7 linked regions of the Homo sapiens genome follow. The protein of the gene in region 6 purifies or fractionates together with the protein of the main gene of each other region. This does not show direct contact. Each region holds a gene or a part of one and is shown on either strand. Other genes may lie near its edges.

Region 1 (3,500 bases), 5.3 Mb from region 6:
ACCGTGTTAGCCAGGATGGTCTCGATCTCCTGACCTCGTGATCTGCCCGCCTCAGCCTCCCAAAGTGCTGGGATTACAGGCATGAGCCACCGCGCCCGGCCTCAGTAAACTTTTTTTTGAGATGGAGTCTTGCTCTGTCGCCCAGGCTAAAAGGCAGTGGTGTGATCTTGGCTCACTGCAACCTCTGTCTCTGGGTTCAAGTGATTCTCATATCTCAGCCTCCCGAGTAGCTGGAATTAGAGGCGTGCACCACCACACCCAGCTAGTTTTTGTATTTTTAGTATTGATGGGGTTTCATCATGTTGGCCAGGCTGGTCTTGAACTCCTGACCTCAAGTGATCCACCCACCTCGGCCTCCCAAAGTGCTGGGATTACAGGCATAAGCCATCATGCCCGGCCCATTCAGTATACATTTTTTGACCAGCCACCACATGTTAGGCCCTGTTTTGGGTGCTGGGTGTACACACAGTAGTGAGTGACATGGTGAAGTCACCCCTCTCTGAGACTTACGCTCTGGTTCTAGAAGACAGACAATAACAAAGGCATGAGGAGGTAATCGTAGTGGTTGTGGTGCTGAGGGAGGGAACCCTGCAGGTGTCTGGGGGAAGAGCGCTCCGGTAGCAGGCACAGCCTGTGCAAAGGCCCAGAGGCGGGAGTGTGCTGACGCATCTGAACACCAGCCAGCCAGCCAGTGCAGAGGGGCTGGGAGCCAGGGAGCGTGGTGGGGGTGGTGGGTGCTGGCCAGATCCTGTCAGGCCCCACGGGCATGGAGAGGACTTGGCTGTGACTCTGAGGAGCACACAAGCCTCCAGGGGGCTCTCAGCCAAAGAGAGACAGGAGTTGACTCAGAGCTTTTAAAATAACTTTATTAAGATATAATTAACATACCATAGCTCGTCCCTCTAAGTGTATAATTTAATAGTTTTAGTATATTCGCAGATATAGGCAGCCATCCACATAGTCAATTTTAGAGCATTTTCATCACCTCCAAAAAGAAACCCCACATCTCTCAGCTGTCACCCGCCCCCTCCTCCCCGACACTCCCAGCCCTAAGCAACCACTAACCTACTTTCTGTCCGTATGGTTTTGCCTATTCTGGACATTTCATAAAAATGGAAGCATACAGCTGGGTGTGGTGGCTCACGCCTGTAATCCCAGCACTTTGGGAGACCGAGGCAGGAGGATCGCTTGAACTCAGGAGATGGAGACCAGCGTGGGCAACATAGGGAGAGCATGTCTCTATAAAAAATTAGCCAGGCATGGTGGTGTGGACCTGTGGTCCCAGCTACGTGGGAGACCGAAGCGGGAGGATCGCATGAGCCTGGGAGATCAAGGCTGCAGTGAGCTGTGATCTCGCCACTGTTCTCCAGCCTGGGTGACAGAGTGAGACCCTGTCTTAAAAAAAAAAAACAGGGTGGGAGGAGGGGAGCACAGACGTGGTGGCTTATGCCTGTTATCCCAGCACTTTGAGAGGCCGATGAGGGCAGATCACTTGAGGCCAGGAGTTCAAGACCAGCCTGGCCAACATGGCAAAATCCCGTCTCTACTAAAAATACAAAAGTTAGCTGGGTGTGGTGGTGGTGCCTGTAATCCCAAGCTACTCCGGAGGCTGAGGCAGGAGAATTGCTTGAACCCAGGAGGTGGAGGTTGCAGTGAGCTGAGATCGTGCCACTGCACTCCAGCCTGGGCAACAGAGCGAGACTCTGTCTCAAAAAAAAAAGAAAAAAGAAAAAAAGAAAAAGAAAAAGAAATATATATCCATGACATAGACAGAGCGGACAGGAATGAGCAGAGGTCTCTGTGAGAGAGTGTGGGGGAGCCCTGGTGTGGGCCTATCCTGGCACCCGTGGCTCTGGACAGGGGACAGGATGGGGCAGGGAGCTTCCTGGTGTCTGCGTGGCTCAGGCACGCCACCCTCTGATCGGTCCCCAGCTCTCCATCCATGAGACCGAGGACCCCAACGACAACCGATACCTGCTGGTGATGAAGGGTGCCCCCGAGCGCATCCTGGACCGCTGCTCCACCATCCTGCTACAGGGCAAGGAGCAGCCTCTGGACGAGGAAATGAAGGAGGCCTTCCAGAATGCCTACCTTGAGCTCGGTGGCCTGGGCGAGCGCGTGCTTGGTGCGAGGCTGCCGGGCGGGCTCTGGGGTCCCTGGAGGGCAAGGAGGGTTGTGATGCTGCCCAAAGCCTGTCTCAGCCCAGGGCCTCCCAGAATATACTGTAAATGAATGAATGAATGAATGAATGGATGGATGAGAGGGGAAGGTATCCTAGGAAATGAATGCTGACTGGCCGTCTTGCTGATGGGGAGATGGAATGCGGGCGATGCAGACATCTAGGGGCATGGGGCGGAGGTTCCGAGGCTGGGACCCTCACACCCCAACCCTTCCCTGCCACTAGGTTTCTGCCATTATTACCTGCCCGAGGAGCAGTTCCCCAAGGGCTTTGCCTTCGACTGTGATGACGTGAACTTCACCACGGACAACCTCTGCTTTGTGGGCCTCATGTCCATGATCGACCCACCCCGGGCAGCCGTCCCTGACGCGGTGGGCAAGTGTCGCAGCGCAGGCATCAAGGTGTGGCTTGGGGTGGCTGGGGGAGGCAAAGCCAGGCGTGGGGCGGGAGAGGCCATCCCTAAAAAACAATGCCTGCAGGTCATCATGGTCACCGGCGATCACCCCATCACGGCCAAGGCCATTGCCAAGGGTGTGGGCATCATCTCTGAGGGCAACGAGACTGTGGAGGACATCGCCGCCCGGCTCAACATTCCCGTCAGCCAGGTTAACCCCCGGTGAGCCACCCATCCCAGCCAGGGCCCTGGACATCCCTCTAGGGTGTTGACACAGGGGGACCGCTTCCCCCCAACCTCCCTCTGCACTGCCTGTCCCATTCTTTCTGGGACTCCTCCATGGACCAGGCCCTGGGTCTGGCCCTCCCTCCGGTGTGGGGACATTGCAGCCACAGAGGTAGCCAGGCATAGGTTTGCATCCCAGCCTTTATTTTATTTTATTTATTTATTTATGTTTTTGAGATGGAGTCTTGCTCTGTCGCCCAGGCTGGAGTGCAGTGGGGCAACCTCAGCTCACTGCAGCCTCCGCCTCCCGGGTTCAAGCAATTATCTGCCTCAGCCTCTTGAGTAGCTGGGATTACAGGGGCCCTCCACCATGCCCCGCTAATTTTTTTTTTTTTTTTTTGTATTTTTAGTAGAGACGGGGGTTTCACTATGTTGGCCAGGCTGGTCTCGAACTCCTGACCTCAGGTGGTCCACCTGCCTTGGCCTCCCAAAGTGCTGGGATTACAGGCGTGAGCCACTGCGCCCGGCCTGCATTCCAGCTTATACCGCTCACAAGCTGTGTGACATTGGGCAAGTCCTTTAGCATCCATGAACTTCAGTTTGCCCATCTCTAAAATGGGCTACTAATAATTCCTATCTCAGAGGATTCAGTAGAATCCAGTACTTCTGTGTCTGTCTCTCTTTTTTCCTGTCTGTCTGTCA
Region 2 (3,500 bases), on a different chromosome or scaffold from region 6:
CAGTAATATGAAATTCCCAGCAGATACAAATGGAATCTATACAACTTGATATTATTTATAATGAATGAATTATAATAAAGTGTTCCTGGCTTTTGAAAGATGCATCAAAATAAGTGACTAGTAAAATGCCTCTTAAGTCTCTTCAGAATAATGGTATTCTTTTTTTCCCCCATATTTCTTTCTTTTTTGCTTATTTTAACATGGTTTCATTTGTCTTAACTGGTATGTTGAATTTGTCACAAATTACAAGAAAGAACATTAGTGATATTAAAATAATTTTTCCCTCTCCCCATAGCACATTCTTATATTTTCTGTCTGTTGGACATGTCTTGTATTTTATTAGAGAGTTTAATATTTTATTCATGTTACTGGAAAAGTTCTTATAAAAATAGCACTAAATAACTGGATACAGGTTCTTCACAAAGTCGTAAAAACAGAGAAAGGCTTAGGGTTTTGTCTAGCATTGTAAAATAAAATCCAAAGGGCTGGGGGGAACCAACTTTTTATTCTAGCGACTTTTCTGCTTTTTTAGTGTTTCATATCACATAATAAATACATGCAGGTTATGGTATAGGTTACATTCTTTGATTATACTAGCTTAATTTTAAGTGTTTGATTAAGCATCTGTGATGTCGTTAAGATTTTGTTCTTAATTCTCACCTGAAATGAGAATGCTGATGGTGTGCACACTTAGCAGTTTAGTGTTAATGGCTACCTCTGAGGACCATACCTTTTTAATTGAATACTGTATGTAGCGCGACCTTCATGTTGCTGCAGTTGTATCCATTTCCATTAATTTGATCATAGTGAGATTGTTTTTATCAGATAATGTATTAAGTTAAAAAAATATAACAGTATCCAACTTATTAGAAGTAAAGTCCTAAGTATATGTGACTAATACAGCTTTGCATGACCCAACAGATACCAGCTTATTAGATACTTAGTAAACTTTTAAATTGTAGGTATGTGTTGAGCATATGATATAGATGATAGTGGTAAAGTCTATCTTCTTTTTTTTTTTGAGGCACGGACACTTGCTAGTATGTTGAGAGAAGTTGAGAGAAAAAATGAAGAGCTTAGTGTGTTGCTGAAGGCGCAGCAAGTTGAATCAGAAAGAGCGCAGAGTGATATTGAGCATCTCTTTCAACATAATAGGAAGTTAGAGTCTGTGGCTGAAGAACATGAAATACTGACAAAATCCTACATGGAACTTCTTCAGAGGTAAATAAAGTAAAATCTTCTGTGTAAGGTTAGAACCTAGAATGAACATGCAGCATTTCTTTTCTGAGACCCGAAAATCCTTTTGTAAGCATTTCATATATTCTGATAACACATGAGGTAAGTAATTAGCAAGAAACTTAAGTCATTGTGAAATGAAGTGTTGCTTCCTCAAACTCAGTATCAATGTTGGAAACAAAATACAGGTCTTTCCAGTTGACTTCTTTTATGTATTCATAACAGTCAGCAGTCATTTGGGAGATAAGCTCCACAAGGACAAGTTTGTCTGTTTTGATCACTGACAGATCCCTAGGGCCTGTAGGAGTGCTTGCTGCATAGTTAGGCACTTCATTAATAATTTTTAAATAAACTTAGTTGTCAAATTAGTATTAGGTTGAATGGTCATTTCTGCAGATCAAAAGTAGTTGAATATTGGCAATTTCATATCATTCTGCCTAATAGAATGGAAATTTAGGTGTAAGTGTTTAACTCATCTCTTAATATCCTTGATTATAGTTTACTTCCATGTGTGATTACATCTGTAGAATAAGTTCACATAGGTGAATTGCTAAGTTAAAGGGTATGTATATTTAATATTTTGATAGATATTTCTAAATTTTCCTCCAAAATGTGATACAGATTGAGTGTCCTTTTTGAACACAATGGTAGCACTCAAAAAGTTTAATATTTTGGAGCACTTTTGATTTTAGACTGATTTTGGATTTTCAAATTAGTGTTGCTCAACCTGTACCAATTTGTGTGCCTACTAGCAAAGTTTGATTGGTTTTTCCTCCCTTATAAACTCTTTTATCTTTTTAGGCCAGTTGTAAAACTTCTGAATTACAGGGAAGACCAGGAACAATTATGTATTTTCTACCAACCCATAAAAGTAAATACACTCTGGGGGAACTTGTTTATTGCTTTATATTTTAAGATTGTTCTATGTTGTTAATACAGAGATATAGAAATTTTTAGCTTGGCATGGTACATATGCTTATTTCCCATCAATAATAATGAAGGGTGAGAAATGAATAGTATCTAGAAAATGATGACAAAGTGATTTTTTAACAGGATATTTACCCCAGCAACTTTTTACAAAGTCTGATTGTTTGAGGCACCACTGATAAAGTGTAGTATTAGTGATAAGCCAAGTTGAGAACGTCAGCAGTGAAGAAAATACGTTATAGAACTGAAATGGGTTCCATTTGCTCAATACAGTAAAACCAGGTATCTGCACCAAGGTTTGCAGTGATAGAAAAAAAGGCTTTTACTGCAGGGTGCCAAGTAAGGAGGAGCAGGCAGCCAAATGCTCAAATACTGACCTCCCCAATAGCTTGCAAGCAAGGATTTTTAAAGGCGAGTAAATTTCAGGAAAGTGGAAGTTACAGACAAAAATCATAAATAAATAGTTAAAGGTTATACATTGGTTTAAGTTTAAAGGACAGGATATTGTGAAGCAGGGGCTTACAGGTCATGGGTAGACCCAAAGATTTTTCGATTTGCAGTTGGTTAAGGAAGAGCAGCTTTGTTTAAACATTTGGGGTCAGTAGAAAAATGTTAACTAGCTAGGGAGAGTGACTTTGTTCAAGACCCTGAGAAAGAAACTTAGAACAAAGAACAGTGGTTAAAATTCAGCCTTCATTTTCTCCTTACCTGAGCTCTACTTGTCAATGGATCTGGTCAGTGGGCTTCCTCAATGAGGGTCCGGGTCTCTGAAATACAACTCAGGGACATGTGTTAAGTTGTTTTCTTTAAGTTCTATAAAGAATCAAGTATCACTGGTACTCTTAAGTTTGTTAACTTTGATTTAGGCTACTATTACCTTCCTGTTTAACAAGTTACTTATTTACTTCTAGGGCTATCTAGGTCCCTGGAATTTCCCTTGAGTGAACTCAGGATTTTCCTTTATTTTCCAGCTTGAGGTCCTCAGACCTCCTAAAAAGGGGATACCTGCTTTGTCTCACATAGAGAACCTAAGAGATAGGCAGCGTCCAAGAAAAATACGTGGTTTCTAAGACCTGCTTATGTTCCAGCTAGTGATTTAGGGGCTAGAAGGTGAAATTCCTTGAATGGACAAGTGGATAACATGTAAATGAAGCTGGCTGGGGAAAAGGTCATTTGTAATGGTCAGGACTGTCTAAAGGCACTCAAACTCAGATTGTTAAAATTCCTGTATGGATTAGATACAAAAACTGCTGGCCAAGTTTGGCTACTGGTTTTTTTTGTTTGTTTTGGTTTGGTTTTTGGGTTGCTTTTTAAAAATCTTTGTGCTTAGTGAAATA
Region 3 (3,500 bases), on a different chromosome or scaffold from region 6:
CTGCCCTGTTCATACCCAACTAGCTACCTAATGTAACACAGTCACTTCTTAAAGGTCCTACCTTTCAATATTTTAATAATATTAATTTAAATATTAATTTCCAAAAAATGAAATTTGGGGGACACATTCAAACCATGGCACCACCTCTTAGCTTCTGTGACATTTCTCTATCCTGGCTTTCCTCTTAACTCTAATGACTTATTCTTAAATTCTTTTGTGTATTCTTCCTTATCAGTTTATCCCTTGTTGGTTTTTCTATGAGGTTGGAGAGAGAGTGTGTGTGTGTGTGTGTGTGTGTGTGTGTGTGTGTTCACACGTGCATATGTGTGTTTTATCCTAGATTCTGAACTTTGTCCCATATTAGATGTATAGCCAACAATTTATTAGATAAATCCATGGTACTTGGATGAACCCAGGCTCCTCAGGTCTTTACACATTTGTCTCCCTTTTTACTGGAATGCTTTTCCTCTCTCCATCTTTCTTTTGCTCTCCCCTTTCTCCTTCCTCACTGTCTTTTATTCACTCTTCAAGGTTTTGCTCCAGTGTCACCTCCTCTGGAAAGCCTTCTCTCTCTCTCTGTTTTTTTTTTTTTTTTTGCAATGGAGTCTTGCTCTGTTGCCCTGGCTGGCATGCAGTGGCGTGATCTTGGTGCGCTGCAATCTCTGCCTTAAGGGTTCAAGCGATTCTCCTGCCTCAGTCTCCCAAGTAGCTGGGACTACAGACGCCAGCTACCACACCCGGCTAATTTTTGTATTTTTAGTAGAGACGGGGTTTCACCATACCGGCCAGGCTGATCTCTACCTGACCTCAGGTGGTCCACCCACCTCGGCCTCCCAAAGTGCTGGGATTTCCACCTCCTGGGTTCAAGCGATTCACATGCCTCAGCCTTCCAAGTAGCTGGGATTACAGGCACCCGCCACCATTCCTGGCTAATTTTTATAATTTTAGTAGAAGTGGGTTTTCGGCATGTTGGCTAGGCTGATCTCGAACGCCTGACCTCAGGTGATCCTGCCTCAGCCTCCCCAGTTGCTGGGGTTACAGATGTGAGCCACTGCACCTGGCCTGGAAAGGCTTCTCTCACTGTCCCTCACAACAATTTGGGTCAGAAGCTTTTCCTGTATACTCCCGTTTCCCTTTATCATTAGCCCTTAATATGGAGTGTCCTAACACTGTATTTACAGAGAGTTTACTTAACTCCCCTACTAGATTGTCTAGATTGTTAGGATTGTTTTTTTTTTTAATTTTTGTGGTTTTTTTTGTAAATGGAGTCTCGCTCTGTCACCCAGGCTCGAGGTCAGTGATGCAATCTTGGCTCACTGCAGCCTCCACCTCCAAGGTTCAAGTGATTCTCCTGCCTCAGCCTCCCAAGTAGCTGGGATTACAGTCGTGCACCACCACGCCCAGCTAATTTTTGTATTTTTAGTAGAGACAGGGTTTCACTGTGTTGACCAGGCTGGTCTCAAACTCCTGACCTTGGGTGACCCACCACCTCAGCCTCTCAAAGTGCTGGCATTACAAGTGTGAGCCACCATGCCCAGCCCAGTTTTTACGAATTTCTACTTTTTGAAAATGCTCTCCTAAAATATATTTTTAAAGGAATATAAGAAGAAAAGAAATACAAATTTTACTTTTTACTGGTTTAGTGCCATATTTTCATTGCTATTTTGAAAATAATATTACATGAAATTATTACCCATTACACTAAAAATTCTTTCCATGCTGGTAGTCATTGGAATTGGCACAATTCTGGAGCAACGTCTTCTCTACTAAAAAGATATTTTCATGTATCAAAATTCTTAATTTCTTGGCATTTAGTCTTTTTAGTCAAAATTCTCAAAAGAAGGATATTAGTAGTGATTAGGTCTACTCAGCATACTATGTTGAGTTTTGAAAAGTACTCTCTTTTCTCCAGATATTTTGAAAACTCTTTAAAGAGTCTTGCTATCAGGCCCAGTGCTGTGACTCACGTGCCTGTAATCCCAGCGCTTTGGGAGGCCAAGTTGGGAGGATTGCTTGAGCCCAAGAGTTCAAGACCAGCCTGGGTAACGATATAAGACCTCGTCTCTACAAAAAAATTTAAAAAGTTATCTGGGTATGGTGGTGCTACTCCCTGTAGTCCCAGCTGCTTGGGAGCCTGAGTTGGGAGGATTTCTTGAGCAAAGGAGTTTGAGGTTACAGTGAGCCAAGATTATGCCACTGTATTCTGGCCTGGGTGACAGAGCCAGACCCTGTCTCAGAAAAAAAAAAAAAAAAAAGTTTTGCTTTCAAACCACTACACATTTAACATTAAAATTGAGTTTTCATTGCTTTTTTGAAAATTAAAATTTTATGTAACATGAAATTATTATTTTCTATTTTAGTAGAGATGACAAATGAAGCTAAAGGTAATACAGGAAGAAAATGAAAACCAGAGTACCTAAAATGAAAGATATTTTAACGGCTAGAACTTTAAATATTATGTATCATTATACTTTTGCATATTATTTCTTATTTTTTTCATAAAGAAAAACGCACCTAAATATTTTCACTTTAAATATCTTTAGGGAATTACCAGGCACGGTGGCTCACACCAACAATCCCAGCACTTTGGGAGGCCAAGGCAGGCAGCTCACCTGAGGTCAGGAGTTAAGAGATCAGCCTGGCCAACATGGTGAAACCGCGTCGCTACTAAAAAAAATATAAAAATTAGCTGTGCCCACGTGGTGGCACATGCCTGTAATCTCAGCTACTTGGGAGGCTGAGGCAGGAGAATCGCTTGAACCTGGGAGGTAGAGGTTGTAGTGACCTGAGATCGCACCATTGCACCCCAGCCTGGGCAACAAGATCAAAACTCCGTCTCAAAAGTAAATAAATAAATAAAATAAAATAAATAAATAAATATCTTTAGGGAACAAAAGGTCATAGTTTTCCTTATTAAATTGTTCTACCACTTATCTATATTTGTTTAAATTTATTTCCTAAAATTTAATAAAAGCCATTAAATAGGAAGATTAGAGATAGAATCTTCCTATGTTGCCCAGACTGGAGTGCAGTGGCTTTTCACAGGTACAGTCATAGTGTGTTACAGCCTCCAACTCCTGGGCTCAAGGGATCCTTCTACTCTAGACTGCTGAGTAGCTGAGATTACAGGCATGGGCCACTTCGCCTGGCTTAGCCTACCACATATGAAAAAAAGTAATCTGGCTGAGTGCGGTGGCTCATGCCACTAATCCCAATATTTTGGGAGGCCAAGGTGGGAGAATTCCTCCCTCCCGCGGCAGGAGGATTGCTTTGAGAGTTGGAGGCGGGAAGTTCAAGACCAGCCTGGGCAACATAGGGAGACCCTGTCTCTACAAAAATAAAAAAATTAGGTGGGCATGGTGGTGCATACCTGTAGTCCTGGCTACTCAAGAGGCTGAGGCAGGAGGATCACTTGGGCCTCAAAGGTCGAGGCTGCACTGAGCCGTGATCGGACCACTGCGCTCCAGCCTGGATGTCAGAGTGAGACCCTGTCTCAAAAA
Region 4 (4,084 bases), about 28 Mb from region 6:
ATAAAATATAAACCAGGCCCGGTGGCTCACGCCTGTAATCTCAGCACTCTGGGAGGCCGACGTGGGCGGATCACCTCAAGTCGGGAGTTCAAGACCAACCTGATCAACATGGAGAAACCTCATCTCTACTAAAAATGCAAAATTAGCCAGTCGTGGTGGTGCATGCCTGTAATCCCAGCTACTCGGGAGGCTGAGGCAGGAGACTCACTTGAACCCAAGAGGCGGAAGTTGCGGTGAGCCAAGATCACACCATTTCACTCCAGCCTGGGCAACAAGAGCGAAACTCCGTCTCAAGAAAAAAAAAAATTAATACACAAATACATAATAAAATGTAAAAACGAAAAGGTAATTACTCAGGCCCCACACACAGGAACCCACCCCCATAAAGATGCTCAGACACTCAGTCATACCCAATATATGTCTACACTCAGGCAGACACACTCATCCACAGAAAGACAAATGGCAAAACCGGGGCACAAACACCAGAAGCCCTTTCCTCCTAGCGGTGAAATAAAGAACATCAGATCCCTGAAGCTGACATTTGGTCCTTGATCCAGCCACGCCTGAAGCTGACACTATGGCTAGTATTTTCTGTCACATGAGCCAAAAATTTTCCTTTTTTGCTTGAACCCATGTTAGTTGATATTTTGTGGAGCACAGCCAGAGTCCTAGCTGATAGAGATGAATAAGGCACTTGCCAGGTGAAAAAGATTGAGGCATTCTTTTTTGCTTTTGTTTTGTTTTTATTTTAAGATTGAGGCATTCTTGAAGGCATTGCAAGATGTAGGATATTTACAAAGGCCTGGAGGTATGAGACAGCATGGTGGGTGCAAGTTGTACTATAGGGTGCACAATAGTGCTAGCAGCAGATTTAAGTCAGGCAGAAGGGTCTGAATTCAGTCTGAGTACTTAGCCTACTTAGTACTTAGGAGTACTAAGTACTTCGTCTACTAAGTGGGAGCCATTGAATGTTCTTGATGGGGGGAGGGAATTCTACTCTCAGAAATGTCCCTTAGGTGGGAATAAATGCTTTCGCTGCAAACCTTTGAGATAAGTGTAGGAAAGAGAAAACTAAGCCTTAAGAGAGGTCGGCCACGCAGGCCTCCCAGACACAATCTTCACTTTGATCGATCCGAACCAGCGTATCTGAACTACAATTTCCGGCATGCAACGCGAGCGGCCTCCTCGTCCCTGGTGATTTGCCGGCTCAAGACACACTGATTGGTCGGACGGGATGCTCGTCAGACCAGAGTCGGGCTCTAATTGGTCGAGTTTCCGCAGAGTGCCCGGAGCCCTAGGCCGGTGGGTGAGTGCACCGCGTTCTCGCACGCGTCATGGTGAGCGAGCGTCCCGCGAAGTGGGGGGTTCTGCAGGGCCGAGGTCCAGCCGAAGGGGTCCAGGGAGACACTGAGGGAATGGATTGGGGTTTCTTCTTGGGGATTGGAGGCTCTGAGGGATTCGGGGGCACGCTGAAGGCCGTGTGTCCCTCTCTGGGAGCCCTGCTCTCGCTACAGGACCTCCGAGGGAGTCGGCGGGAGTTGTACCCAGGGGGACTAGAAGCCCCTAAGCGTTCTGGGGATTCTGCCCTCGAGACCTTTTAGGGGTCTGGGATCCTTTTGAGGGGTCGTGGTCCCACAGAGGGGACTGGGGACCCCAGCACATTTGGAACCTGGTTAAGGCGGTGTGGGGTCCTGTTGGGGGTCCACTCTGGGGACGGGGGTCCTGCAGGAGCGTGGGGGCCGCGCCGACAGGATCCATCGGGGGTCCCTGCTATATCGGGGTGTGTGGAACGGGCAGGGGAGGCCGTGGGAGGTGGACTCAGGAGGTCTGGTTGGCCTCAGGGCGGGCAAGGTTCTCAGAGTGGGAGACAGGAAAGTTGGAACCTTCAGGTCTCACGCGGCTCTGGGTCCAACCTATTGAGTGTGTTCTTAAAACTTAGCCCAGCCCCTGGGGGTCAGGCTGGTGCAGGGAGATGGGGGACTCCCACAACCCTGACGGGACCGGCCTGGGCAGAGAGAGGGACGTGGAACTGGAGGGTCTCTGCCTGGGACCATCCCCGAGGAGGGGCGCTGGAGATGGCCCTGAAGGAAGGGCACTGATGGCCGGAATTATTGAAAGTGGGGCGTCGTCCCAGGCGGAGGTGCAGGACGCCGTAGGAGATGAAGGCACAGGCTCCCGGGAATGAGGAGGGAGGCTGCATTGATTTTATCAGGGTTCTTGAGTTCGAGAATCGTAAATCCAGTGAAGGGAAAAGAAGGAGCTGATGGAAGACTCCAGAAAATTCTTGCAGATGTCTGCAGAGCCCTGACCCTGAGACAGGAGGCTGGGTGGAGGGCAGGGCCATCAGAACATCCCTGGACAGACCTCTGGGAGCCTTAGGTGGAGAGATGCACCCCTCCACCACCTTTTCCCTTGGGGGGTTTTGGGGGGTGGTGGGGTCATTGATGAAGAGCCCAAAGGTCCAGGAAGACCTCTGAGACTCCAGTGGTTGGGTGCAGGGAGGGCTGAGGAGAGAGCTGAGCTGTGGGGAGGTGGAGGGATGGTCTCTAGCTATGCCTGCAGGGTGCAGAACCAAGTTGGGGGCTGACTGTGAGACTGGGAAGGGCCTGAACCACCTGGAAGGGTATGGGATGATGGGTGAGTGCTAGGGTCTCCCAGGAGAGCCTGGAGGAGGCTACTGGTTGAGCTCAGCAGAGAGGTCTGGGCTGGAGGTGTCACCGTGCTGAGGTTTTGATGGGCTGGCTGATTGGGTGGTTAAAACCCTGGCAGGTCACAGGAGAGAGGTCGGAGAGAGAGGAGAAAAACAGACTGGGGGGTGGGAGGGCAGGGTCCTAGGGGAAGGGTGGGGCTTCAACAGCCCTGACCCACTGGCTTGCAGGGGCCCATGGGCTGGCACTCATGGTCCCTAAGTGCCAGCCAGCCAGTCTGCACTAGGGTCCCGGGGAGGGCGAGCAATGAGGACTTAGAGATGAGAAAGATGCCGCCACCAACCTCATTACTGAAAAAAGATTTCTGGTCTCAGTTTACAAGTCACAGGTACAGAGAAAATGTCCTATTAGTCTGTTATTTTATGTATTTTTATTTTATTATTATTATTATTTTGTTTTGAGACAGAGTCCCACTCTGTTGCCCAGGCTGGAGTGCAGTGGCACAATCTCGGCTCACTGCAACCTCTGCCTCCCAGGTTCAAGCAATTCTGCTGCCTCAGCCTCCCAAGTAGCTGGGATTACAGGCGCCCACCACCATGTCTGGCTAATTTTTGTATTTTTAGTAGAGACAAGGTTTCATCATGTTGGCCAGGCTCGTCTCAAACTCCTGACCTCAAGTGATCAGCCCGCCTCAGCCTCCCAACATGCTGGGATTACAGGCACGAGCCACCGCACCTGGCCTCAGCAGTCATTTTGAATTACCGTGCTAGGCCCGGTACCCATCACATTAGGGTTTTTCCGACTAAATTTAGCTTATTTATGCCTGATTAAAGGATTATTTTCATAATTAATTTTACTATTAAATAAACTTTATTTCATTTTGATGATAATTCCAGAACACTAGTAGACAGCTCTCCTGAGCACATAATTTTACATAATTATGTAATTACTGGCAGCAAATGGGTATTTACTGCATTCAAGCAGGAAAACCCAGCTTCACCACAGACTGATTCTTCTAAAACGTTTAAAAATAAGTATATGAAAATGTGTTCTGAATTAAGAACTGGGTGAGAAAATTCCTAATTAAAAAAAAAAAAAGCCTTAGCTGGGTGTGTTGGCACATGACTGTAGTCCTAACTACTCGGTAGGTTGAGGTGGGAGGATCACTTGAGCCCAGGAGTTTGAGACCAGCCTGGACAACATAGCAAGACCCCATCTCTAAAAATAAAAATAAAAATAGGCCGGACACAGTGGCTCACGCCTGTAATCCCAACCGTTTGGGAGGCCAAGGCAGGAGGATTGCTTGAGCCTAGGAGTTCAAGACCAGCCTGGCAACATGGAGAAACCCTGTCTCTACAAAATAGACAAAAATTAGTTGGGTATGGTGGCGAGTGCCTGTAATCCCAGCTACTAGGGAGGCTGATGTGGGAGAATCA
Region 5 (3,500 bases), on a different chromosome or scaffold from region 6:
CTGGCATTAGGATTTATACTCAAATCTTTCTGATGCCACAAAGGAGGCCACTTTCCATCAATTTCTGGCGAGGCCCTGAGCCAAGTGCTTCCTTTGCATTACTTCACCAAATCCTCATACAACAAATAATAGCATCATCATAATACTACCACTATCCCATCTTACAGGCAAGAAAACATCCGCTGAGCCTCTACCTGGACCACACCCGGGCCAAGCCCTGTACTTGGATCCTGTTTGCCTCACGTGACAACCGGGAAGATGGGTGCTCAGCTAACCCTTGGTTTACGGAGGAGCAAACTGAGGCGAAGTCACTGGTTCAACCACACACAACCGAACGCACATGACTGAATAAGCAATTCCCCTCCCACGCATTACATGGGAAAACAAAAAGCATTTGTAAAGTGCTTGCGGACACATTTTAGCGATTAGTACTATTATGATGAACATTTCGGTACTTGGCAATTACCCCATAAAGTCAGTGCTGCTGCCCCTATTCTCCGGAAGAGCACAATGACGTTCACAGAGTCAGTGGCAGAGACAAGGAACTGTGGCTCTCAATCCTCTGCCACATGTTGGTCTCCTGGGACCACGGCTGGGCCCCTTCACACCTTGAAGCTCCCCTGCCTGTCTCCAGCCTCTCTCTGGTGCCCAGGAGCCCCTGCAGACCTGGGGTCTTCATAGGGCTGGCTGGAATTCCTGCCCCATGGATTCCTAGCTGTGGGCCCTAAGGGGTCTCTGGGCATCCCCCAGCCAGCTACAAAAAGGTGGAAAGGTGAAGGAGCACCAGGGACCTGGGTTCAAATCCCAGCTCTGCCCCTCACTTGCTGTGTGACTTGGGCACATTCTTTTTTTTTTTTTTTTTTTTTTGAGATAGAGTCTCACTCTGTCACCCAGGCTAGAGTGCAATGGTTCCATCTTGGCTCACTGCAACCTCCACCTCCCAGGATCAAATGATTCTCCTGTCTCAGCCTCCTGAGTAGCTGGATTACAGGCATGCACCACCAGGCCCGGCTAACTTTTTTTGTATTTTTAGTAGAAACGGGGTTTTGCCATGTTGGCCAGGCTGGTCTCGAACTCCTGACCTCAGGTGATCCACCTGTCTTGGCGTCCCAAAGTGCTTGGATTACAGGTATGAGCCACTGCGCCTGGCCTGACTTGGGCACATTCTTAATGTCTCTGGGCCCTGGTTTCTGTAATCCGGAAAATGGGTGATGGTGAAGAAGAGATAAGACTGTGTGCAGGTCTTATGAGCAATAAACACCTCATAAATCTTAGTGACTGCAGTGGGTTGAACGGTGTCCTATCCAAAGTTCATGCCCACCTGGAACCTCAGAATGTGACCTTGTTTGGAAATAGGATCTTTGCAGATGGAATTAGCTAAGGATTTTGAGATGAAATCATCTTGGGTCTAGGTTGGGCCCTAAATCCAATGACCAATGTCTTTAGAAGCAGAGGAGAGGACACCGAGAGACACACAGGAAGGAGTGAGGTGAAGATGAAAGCAGAGATGGGTGTGACGCAGCCACAAGGTGAGGAAGAGCAAGGGTTGCTGGCCACTGCCCGTAGCTAGGGAGACAAGGGACAGGCTCTTCCTCAGCCTCTCCAGGAAAAGCCAACCCTGCTGGCTCCTGACTCTAGACTTCTGGCTTCCAGAAGTGGGAGACAATACACGTCTGTTGTTTGAAGCCACCTAGCCTGTGGTCATTTGTTATGGCAGCCACAGAAAACAAACACAACGGGCTGTCCCTGCAGTTGCTCTCCTTGCTACTTCCTGAGACTTGCAGTGTTTCTGACCCTTCACCCCAAGGGGCAGTGGGCAGGAGAAGCTGCCCTCACCAAGGACACTGGGGGGCAGGATCACTGACCCCTCTCACAAGGGGAGAGCTTGGGACCAGAGGGCTTACACAGCTTTTCCAAGGTCACTCGCCAGTGATGAGCCGGCCTGGGACCCAGCTCTCCTGACCCTCAGACCAACACACTCTCCCCCATACCCAGGGACCTCTGTTTCTTTAGGAACCTGAGCTGTGGCCCCTGCTCGGGCCTGGTCACTTGCCCTCCTGGTCCTGCCAGCCGTGGTCTCTGGCCACATATCTGGAACTCTCTGACCCTGCAGAGATTTCCTAGACTGTGAATGACACTTCTAAGGCTTTTACCGTCACTCCCGCTTCCCCCTGCCTCCCGCCGCCTCCATCCAGACTGTCAAGTGAAGACCGGGGTGAAGCCGAAGCCACACTGCCCAGCAGGAGGTCCCAGGAGTTTTCCATAGCATAACCCATTTTTTAAACGGTTTTTTTTTTTTTTTGAGACAGGGTCTCGCTCTGTCATCCAGGCTGGAGTGCAGTGGCACAATCACGGCTCACTGCAGCCTTGACCTCCCGGACTCAAGCGATCCTCCCACCTCAGCCTCCTGCATAGCTGGGACGACAGGAGTATGCCACCACACCCTGCTAATTTTTAAATTTTTTGTAGAGATGGGGTCTTGGAGAGTGCCCTTGGAGCATGGCTCCCAGCTGTCTGCTGAGAAGATGGCCTTGTTTTGGATTTGAGGGTTCATCGGTCCTCAGGAGGGCCTGATTTAGCTGTGCAGGGTGAAGCCAGGGGCTAGGGGTTGGTAGGGGACTGGTGGGGAGAGGAAATGAGTTTCAGTCTCATTCAGTCACCCACTAGGCTGGAGACCTCAGTTTCCCCACGTGTGACAGGTACAGGCAGAACAGCATGGTGTCTAGGCCACCCCCAGCTCTGAGCGCCTATGTGCTCCACCAAGCCCACTCTTAAGCACCTCAGCTCCCCAGGGTGCGGAGTGAAATGGGTGAAAACCCAGGGGTACCTGTGGAAATGTAGCCCCTGGGACCTCCTGATTCATCAAGGTAGGGCCCAGAAATCTGCCCCCATCAGGTGATCTTTAGGTTAATTAATGCATTAATGGGTTTCCTGACCCATACCTGTGGCTGGGCAGGGGGAAGGCAGAGGAGGGCAGTGGGACAGCAGGCGGATGGGCCAGTGTTTCAGGCTCTGCACATAGCATAAGCCACAGGCAGCTTTTCTGACCTCCGATCTGCAAACTAGAGATTTCTTTCCTTTTTTCCCTTTCTGATCTCAGAGTTGGCCAGTTGCAGCAGCAAGGTGCTCACCTGCTCCGGCTCCTGATCCTGATGCCAATCACACCTTCGTGCACAGCCCTCTACAGTGTCCAGGGCTCTCTGGCAGCTGTGGCATAAAACAGGGCAGAGATAGGCCTGCCTGGCCACAGATGAGAAGATTGAGGGCAGAGAGAGGAAGTGACTTGGCCAAGATCACACAGCTGGTCAGGAGCAGGGCTGGGCCCAGGGCTCTCATACTTTCCACCCACAGTCAAACACCTGGGGAAAACCAGGGGCCAACACAGGCCTCTGCTGCTTCTTGTCTGGGGCCTGAGAGCACTTGCAAGAAGCCCAGGTCTCTACAGAACACGGTGTGACCTTGGACAAGTCCCTGTGCCTGGCTGGGCCACAGTTTCCTTT
Region 6 (2,706 bases):
AACTTCTAACACGCTGCGTGTTCCAGACATCCTGGCCTTGGTCATCTTTGCAGTCGTCTTCCTGGTGGGAGTGCTGGGCAATGCCCTGGTGGTCTGGGTGACGGCATTCGAGGCCAAGCGGACCATCAATGCCATCTGGTTCCTCAACTTGGCGGTAGCCGACTTCCTCTCCTGCCTGGCGCTGCCCATCTTGTTCACGTCCATTGTACAGCATCACCACTGGCCCTTTGGCGGGGCCGCCTGCAGCATCCTGCCCTCCCTCATCCTGCTCAACATGTACGCCAGCATCCTGCTCCTGGCCACCATCAGCGCCGACCGCTTTCTGCTGGTGTTTAAACCCATCTGGTGCCAGAACTTCCGAGGGGCTGGCTTGGCCTGGATCGCCTGTGCCGTGGCTTGGGGTTTAGCCCTGCTGCTGACCATACCCTCCTTCCTGTACCGGGTGGTCCGGGAGGAGTACTTTCCACCAAAGGTGTTGTGTGGCGTGGACTACAGCCACGACAAACGGCGGGAGCGAGCCGTGGCCATCGTCCGGCTGGTCCTGGGCTTCCTGTGGCCTCTACTCACGCTCACGATTTGTTACACTTTCATCCTGCTCCGGACGTGGAGCCGCAGGGCCACGCGGTCCACCAAGACACTCAAGGTGGTGGTGGCAGTGGTGGCCAGTTTCTTTATCTTCTGGTTGCCCTACCAGGTGACGGGGATAATGATGTCCTTCCTGGAGCCATCGTCACCCACCTTCCTGCTGCTGAAGAAGCTGGACTCCCTGTGTGTCTCCTTTGCCTACATCAACTGCTGCATCAACCCCATCATCTACGTGGTGGCCGGCCAGGGCTTCCAGGGCCGACTGCGGAAATCCCTCCCCAGCCTCCTCCGGAACGTGTTGACTGAAGAGTCCGTGGTTAGGGAGAGCAAGTCATTCACGCGCTCCACAGTGGACACTATGGCCCAGAAGACCCAGGCAGTGTAGGCGACAGCCTCATGGGCCACTGTGGCCCGATGTCCCCTTCCTTCCCGGCCATTCTCCCTCTTGTTTTCACTTCACTTTTCGTGGGATGGTGTTACCTTAGCTAACTAACTCTCCTCCATGTTGCCTGTCTTTCCCAGACTTGTCCCTCCTTTTCCAGCGGGACTCTTCTCATCCTTCCTCATTTGCAAGGTGAACACTTCCTTCTAGGGAGCACCCTCCCACCCCCCACCCCCCCCACACACACCATCTTTCCATCCCAGGCTTTTGAAAAACAAACAGAAACCCGTGTATCTGGGATATTTCCATATGGCAATAGGTGTGAACAGGGAACTCAGAATACAGACAAGTAGAAAGATTCTCGCTTAAAAAAAATGTATTTATTTTATGGCAAGTTGGAAAATATGTAACTGGAATCTCAAAAGTTCTTTGGGACAAAACAGAAGTCCATGGAGTTATCTAAGCTCTTGTAAGTGAGTTAATTTAAAAAAGAAAATTAGGCTGAGAGCAGTGGCTCACGCCTGTAATCCCAGAACTTTGGGAGGCTAAGGTGGGTGGATCACCTGAGGTCAAGAGTTCCAGACCAGGCTGGCCAGCATGGTGAAACCCCGTCTGTACTAAAAATACAAAAAATTAACTGGGCATGGTAGTGGGTGCCTGTAATCCCAGCTACTTGGGAGGCTGAGGTGGGAGAATTGCTCGAACTTGGAGGTGGAGGTTGTGGTGAGCCATGATCGCACCACTGCACTCTAGCCTGGGTGACCGAGGGAGGCTCTGTCTCAAAAGCAAAGCAAAAACAAAAACAAAAACACCTAAAAAACCTGCAGTTTTGTTTGTACTTTGTTTTTAAATTATGCTTTCTATTTTGAGATCATTGCAAACTCAACACAATTGTAAGTAATGATACAGAGGGATCTTGTGTACCCTTCACCCAGCCTCCCCCAATGGCAACATCTTGCAAAACTACAATGTAGTCTCATAACCAGGATATTGACATTGATACAGTGAAGATACAGGACATTCTCATCACCACAGGGATCCCCAGGATGCCCACTTCCCTCCACCCCCACACCCCAGCCGTGTCCCTAACCCCTGGCAACCAGGAATCCACTCTCCATTTCTATAATGTTGTCATTTCAAGAATGTTATTCAATGGAATCATATAGTATGTAACCTGTTTTGAGCTTAAAAAAAAAGTATACATGACTTTAATGAGGAAAATAAAAATGAATATTGAAATGTTGTGTTATTTCTAGTGAATAATTGACTTTGCAGTAGGTATTAGTCGATTTTCACACTGCTGATAAAGACATACCCAAGACTGGGAAGAAAAAAGAGATTTAATTGGACTTACAGTTCCACATTGCTGGGGAGGTCTCACAGTCATGGCAGGAGGCAAAGGCACTACTTACATGGTAGTGGCAAGAGAAAATGAGGAAGAAGCAAAAGTGGAAACTACTGTGAAACCCATCAGATCTTGTGAGACTTATTAACTATCACAAGAATAGCAAGGGAAAGACCGGACCCCATGATTCAATTATCTCCCCCTGGGTCCCTCCCACAACACATGGGAATTCTGAGAGATACAATTCAAATTGAGATTTGGGTGGGGAGACAGCCAAACCATATCACAATATTTCTGCTTTGATTGTGTAGTGTGCATGTGCATGGATTATCTAGAAATAGCGTGCAGACCAGCCAGCTGTGGTGGCTCATGCCTGTAATCCCAGCACTTTGGG
Region 7 (3,500 bases), on a different chromosome or scaffold from region 6:
AAAATGCTGGGGTTACAGGCGTGAGCCACCGCGCCAGGCTTTTTTTTTTTTTTTTTTTTTTTTTTTGAGACAGAGTCTCGCTTTGTTGCTCATTCTGGAGTGCAGTGGCGCAATCTCCGCCTCCCAGATTCAAGCCATTCTCGTGCCTCAGCCTCCCAAGTAACTGGGATTATAGGCCCATGCCACCATGCCCGGCTGATTTTTGTATTTTTAGTAGACACGGGGTTTCGCCGTGTTGGCCAGGCTGGTCTGGAACTCCTGACCCCAAGTGATCCCTCCCAAAGTGCTGAGATTACAGGCGTGAGCCGCCATGCCTGGTTGGAGGGCTTTGGCTTTTATTAAGTGAACCGTGAAGCCACAGCTAGATTTCGCGTTGAGATTCAACTTCAAAGGATCACTTTGGTTGCTGTGTTGAGAAGAAACTGTAGGGGGCCCAAAACAGAATCAGGAAAACTGGTTAAGAAGCTATTATAATAATCCATGGGAAGGATAGCAGTTTGGATCAGGTAGTATTATTACTGATGATGAGCAGTGGTCCCTAGAAGGCCCTTGGGATTTACTGAGAAGTTGGATATGGAGAATAAAGAGTCAAGCTGGACCCCACGTTTTTGGCTTAGCAGTTATAAAGATACTTATTACTGCTCATGAATGGGAAAGACTGGGAAGAAAGGGATGCAAGGGATTCTAGGGGTATAAGGGAGAGGTTAGAATGGTAGACCATGGAGTGTAAACTGGATATGGAGGAAGTGAAGTCATGGGGAGTGAGAGACAGTGAAAAGGTGGTTGGATCATTGACTTGTGGGTCCTGTTGGGGTTGAAGAATTATTGGAATTGGGTAATAGAAGGAGTGAGATGCAAAGATAGGAGGTGGTGCTTAGAGAGTAAAATGGATGAAACTGAGATGAGGAGGTCCGATGTATTGATAATGACAATAGGGCCCTGTCTGATAGAAAAACAGTGTAAGGCACAAATGTAATCTTAGGCTTTCTAGAAGGTGCAGTGATAAAAATGGGCTGGGTCCGGTGGCTCACGCCTGTAATCCCAACACTTTAGGAGGCCAAGGCAGGTGGATCACCTGAGGTCAGGATTTCAAGACCAGCCTGGCCAACATAATGAAACCCCGTCTCTACTAAAAATACAAAAAAATTAACTAGGCATGGTGGCAGACACCTGTAATCCCAGCTACTCGGGAGGCTGAGGCAGGAGAATCGCTTGAACCGGGGAGGCGGAGGTTGCAGTGAGCTGAGGTGGCACCACTGCACTCCAGCCTGAGTGACAGAGCGAGACTCCCATCTCAAAAAAAAAAAAAAAAAAAAGAATTTACTCAAAGAGAATAAAAAGAATCCAGGACTGTAGACAAACTTCTAAAATATTTTATAGTTTCTTCAAAATTAAGTGGTTCAACTGGCATGGCATAGTACTAATTAAAGGTGAACTACAGTAGCCAATTGGACTAGAATGAAGCACAGAATGCGAGCTTTTGAAGGGATTTTGGAAGCAGCAGGTTCTACCTCCTAAATATCACTGTGAATCATCTTTGTCCTTATCCTGAAGAGAGGTAGTAAATACAAGGTAGTGGGTAAGAGTGTTGACTTTGGAATTGGGAAAGCCTGGGTTTTATTTTAGTTACATCTCTGCAGCTTCTTAACGGTGAGCACTTAGCCTCTTTAAACCTCAGTTTCCTAATCAGTGAAATGGGATCATTATGAGGTGAAGCCGAGCACTTAGCATGTAGAAAGCGCTCAGAGTGATGTCAGAGTCTGTCTTGTTTCCTCCTACATATCATCACCAAAAATTTGTTTCATGAACATGCATTTGACCGTGTGACTCTGAGTTAAAAGCTCAGCTTTCTCCCCACCTGTAGAAACTTTTTAGGATGACTTTATATATCCTTTGGTGATCTGGCCATCGGCTCTTTTGGTCCTTACCTCCTGCAGCTCACTCCTACCTCCCCGAGATGGGGAGATGAATAGGACTCCATGCCTGGGGTGTTTAACTTGCTGATCCTTCTGCCCTTTCAAGACTCAGTTCAAATGTCACCTCTGTGACAATGCCACACTCTTCACATGCTCCTTTCTCTGGACTAGAGCAATTTGTGCATCTCGTTCATTTTCCTCTGCTAGACTTTGAATTCTGAGATCATTGATTCATCTATCTCTAGCACCTAACATATTATTTTTAAAAAAAGAATTATTGATTACTACGGTCTAACTTTTTTTTTTTTTTGAGACAGAGTCTCATTCTGTCGCCCAGGCTGGAGTGCAGTGGGGCAATCCTGGCTCACTGCAACCTCTCCCTCCCTGGTTTGAACGATTCTATATCTCAGCCACCTGAGTAGCTGGGATTAAAGCCACTATGCTTGGCTAATTTTTTTTTGTATTTTTAGTAGAGATGGGGTTTTGCCATGTTGGCCAGGCTGGTTTTGAACTCCTGGCCTCAAGTGATCCCCCCAGCCTTTAGCCTCCCAGAGTGCTGGGATTACAGGCGTGAGCCACCATGTGTGGCCTACTATAGGCTAACTTTAAAATAACACATTTCATACTGTAAATAAGGGGGAAATTCTGTTTACCTTGTCTGGAATGTTCATGTGTGTATCTGACATGCCTCGCACTCCCATGCCCAGCCCCAAGCTGAAAAGCACCTTCGCCTTCTAGAATCAGCTTAGATCTTTCTGGGAACCTTTCCTGATTTTTTTTTTTTTTTTCCTGAGACAGAAAAAGGGCTGGAATGCAGTGGTACAATCATGACTCACTGCAGCCTCAGTCTTCTGGGCTCAAGTGATCCTCCCACCTCAGCCTGTGAGTAGCTGGGACTACAGGCATGAGCTGCCATCACACCCAGCTAATTTTTAAATTTTTGTCATTTTTGTAGAGATGAGGTTTCACCATGTTGCCTCAGCTGGTCTGGAACTCTTGGACTCAAGCGATCCACCTGCCTCAGCCTCCCAGTGTGCTGGGATTACAAGTGTGAGCTACAGTGCCTGGCCAGCACAGATTTTTATATACTTGATATGCTAATGAAGTAAATGAAGTGGTCCCATCACTATTTTTTTTAAGGTTCTTGTTATGTCAGTAGCTTTATAATCTTGTAATCTTCCAGGAAGAAGGCCAAATGTTGCTAAAGGCAAAGTGGCAGAAACACTGTACTTATATTTTTAACCTTGTTCTTTTACTAGAATTAACTTAGAATGTATCTGTTTTACAAATTTTTCTAACAGAAATATGCCTGCTACCTAGGGAAATATTATATATGTTTTAAACATTAATTTAAAAACTTGAACTTTGAATTCCTTTTCTTTTAGCTTGGGATGTGGTAATGCCAGCCACACTCCTCAGAGCCGTGGCCAGATCTCATCATATATTATCAAAAGCACATCAGTGCCGAAGAATCGGTCATCTAATGTTAAAACCACTTAAGGAATTTGAAAATACAACATGCAGCACACTGACAATACGTCAAAGCTTGGATTTGTTCCTTCCTGATAAAACAGCTAGTGGTTT

Evidence for each region.
Region 1: the proteins of C5AR1 (region 6) and ATP1A3 purify together in Homo sapiens (affinity purification with mass spectrometry; one large-scale study listed by BioGRID and IntAct). This does not show direct contact.
Region 2: the proteins of C5AR1 (region 6) and CIP2A purify together in Homo sapiens (affinity purification with mass spectrometry; one large-scale study listed by BioGRID and IntAct). This does not show direct contact.
Region 3: the proteins of C5AR1 (region 6) and MFSD8 purify together in Homo sapiens (affinity purification with mass spectrometry; one large-scale study listed by BioGRID and IntAct). This does not show direct contact.
Region 4: the proteins of C5AR1 (region 6) and TMEM161A purify together in Homo sapiens (affinity purification with mass spectrometry; one large-scale study listed by BioGRID and IntAct). This does not show direct contact.
Region 5: the proteins of C5AR1 (region 6) and ATP2B2 purify together in Homo sapiens (affinity purification with mass spectrometry; one large-scale study listed by BioGRID and IntAct). This does not show direct contact.
Region 7: the proteins of C5AR1 (region 6) and RMND1 purify together in Homo sapiens (affinity purification with mass spectrometry; one large-scale study listed by BioGRID and IntAct). This does not show direct contact.

What each region holds. Positions count from the first base shown.
Region 1 is NC_000019.10:41,977,231-41,980,730, reverse strand, and holds part of ATP1A3 (sodium/potassium-transporting ATPase subunit alpha-3), read left to right. Parts: intron 1-1,932; coding exon 1,933-2,125; intron 2,126-2,404; coding exon 2,405-2,580; intron 2,581-2,658; coding exon 2,659-2,795; intron 2,796-3,500. UniProt on the Homo sapiens protein: This is the catalytic component of the active enzyme, which catalyzes the hydrolysis of ATP coupled with the exchange of sodium and potassium ions across the plasma membrane.
Region 2 is NC_000003.12:108,554,939-108,558,438, reverse strand, and holds part of CIP2A (protein CIP2A), read left to right. Parts: intron 1-1,024; coding exon 1,025-1,221; intron 1,222-3,500.
Region 3 is NC_000004.12:127,944,674-127,948,173, reverse strand, and holds part of MFSD8 (major facilitator superfamily domain-containing protein 8), read left to right. Parts: intron 1-3,500. UniProt on the Homo sapiens protein: Outward-rectifying chloride channel involved in endolysosomal chloride homeostasis, membrane fusion and function. Conducts chloride currents up to hundreds of picoamperes.
Region 4 is NC_000019.10:19,135,679-19,139,762, reverse strand, and holds the start of TMEM161A (transmembrane protein 161A isoform 1 precursor), read left to right. Parts: upstream 1-1,284; 5' UTR 1,285-1,334; coding exon 1,335-1,337; intron 1,338-4,084. UniProt on the Homo sapiens protein: May play a role in protection against oxidative stress. Overexpression leads to reduced levels of oxidant-induced DNA damage and apoptosis.
Region 5 is NC_000003.12:10,499,087-10,502,586, forward strand, and holds part of ATP2B2 (plasma membrane calcium-transporting ATPase 2), read right to left. Parts: intron 1-3,500. UniProt on the Homo sapiens protein: ATP-driven Ca(2+) ion pump involved in the maintenance of basal intracellular Ca(2+) levels in specialized cells of cerebellar circuit and vestibular and cochlear systems.
Region 6 is NC_000019.10:47,319,861-47,322,566, forward strand, and holds the end of C5AR1 (C5a anaphylatoxin chemotactic receptor 1), read left to right. Parts: coding exon 1-970; 3' UTR 971-2,206; downstream 2,207-2,706.
Region 7 is NC_000006.12:151,445,627-151,449,126, reverse strand, and holds part of RMND1 (required for meiotic nuclear division protein 1 homolog), read left to right. Parts: intron 1-3,301; 5' UTR 3,302-3,315; coding exon 3,316-3,500. UniProt on the Homo sapiens protein: Required for mitochondrial translation, possibly by coordinating the assembly or maintenance of the mitochondrial ribosome.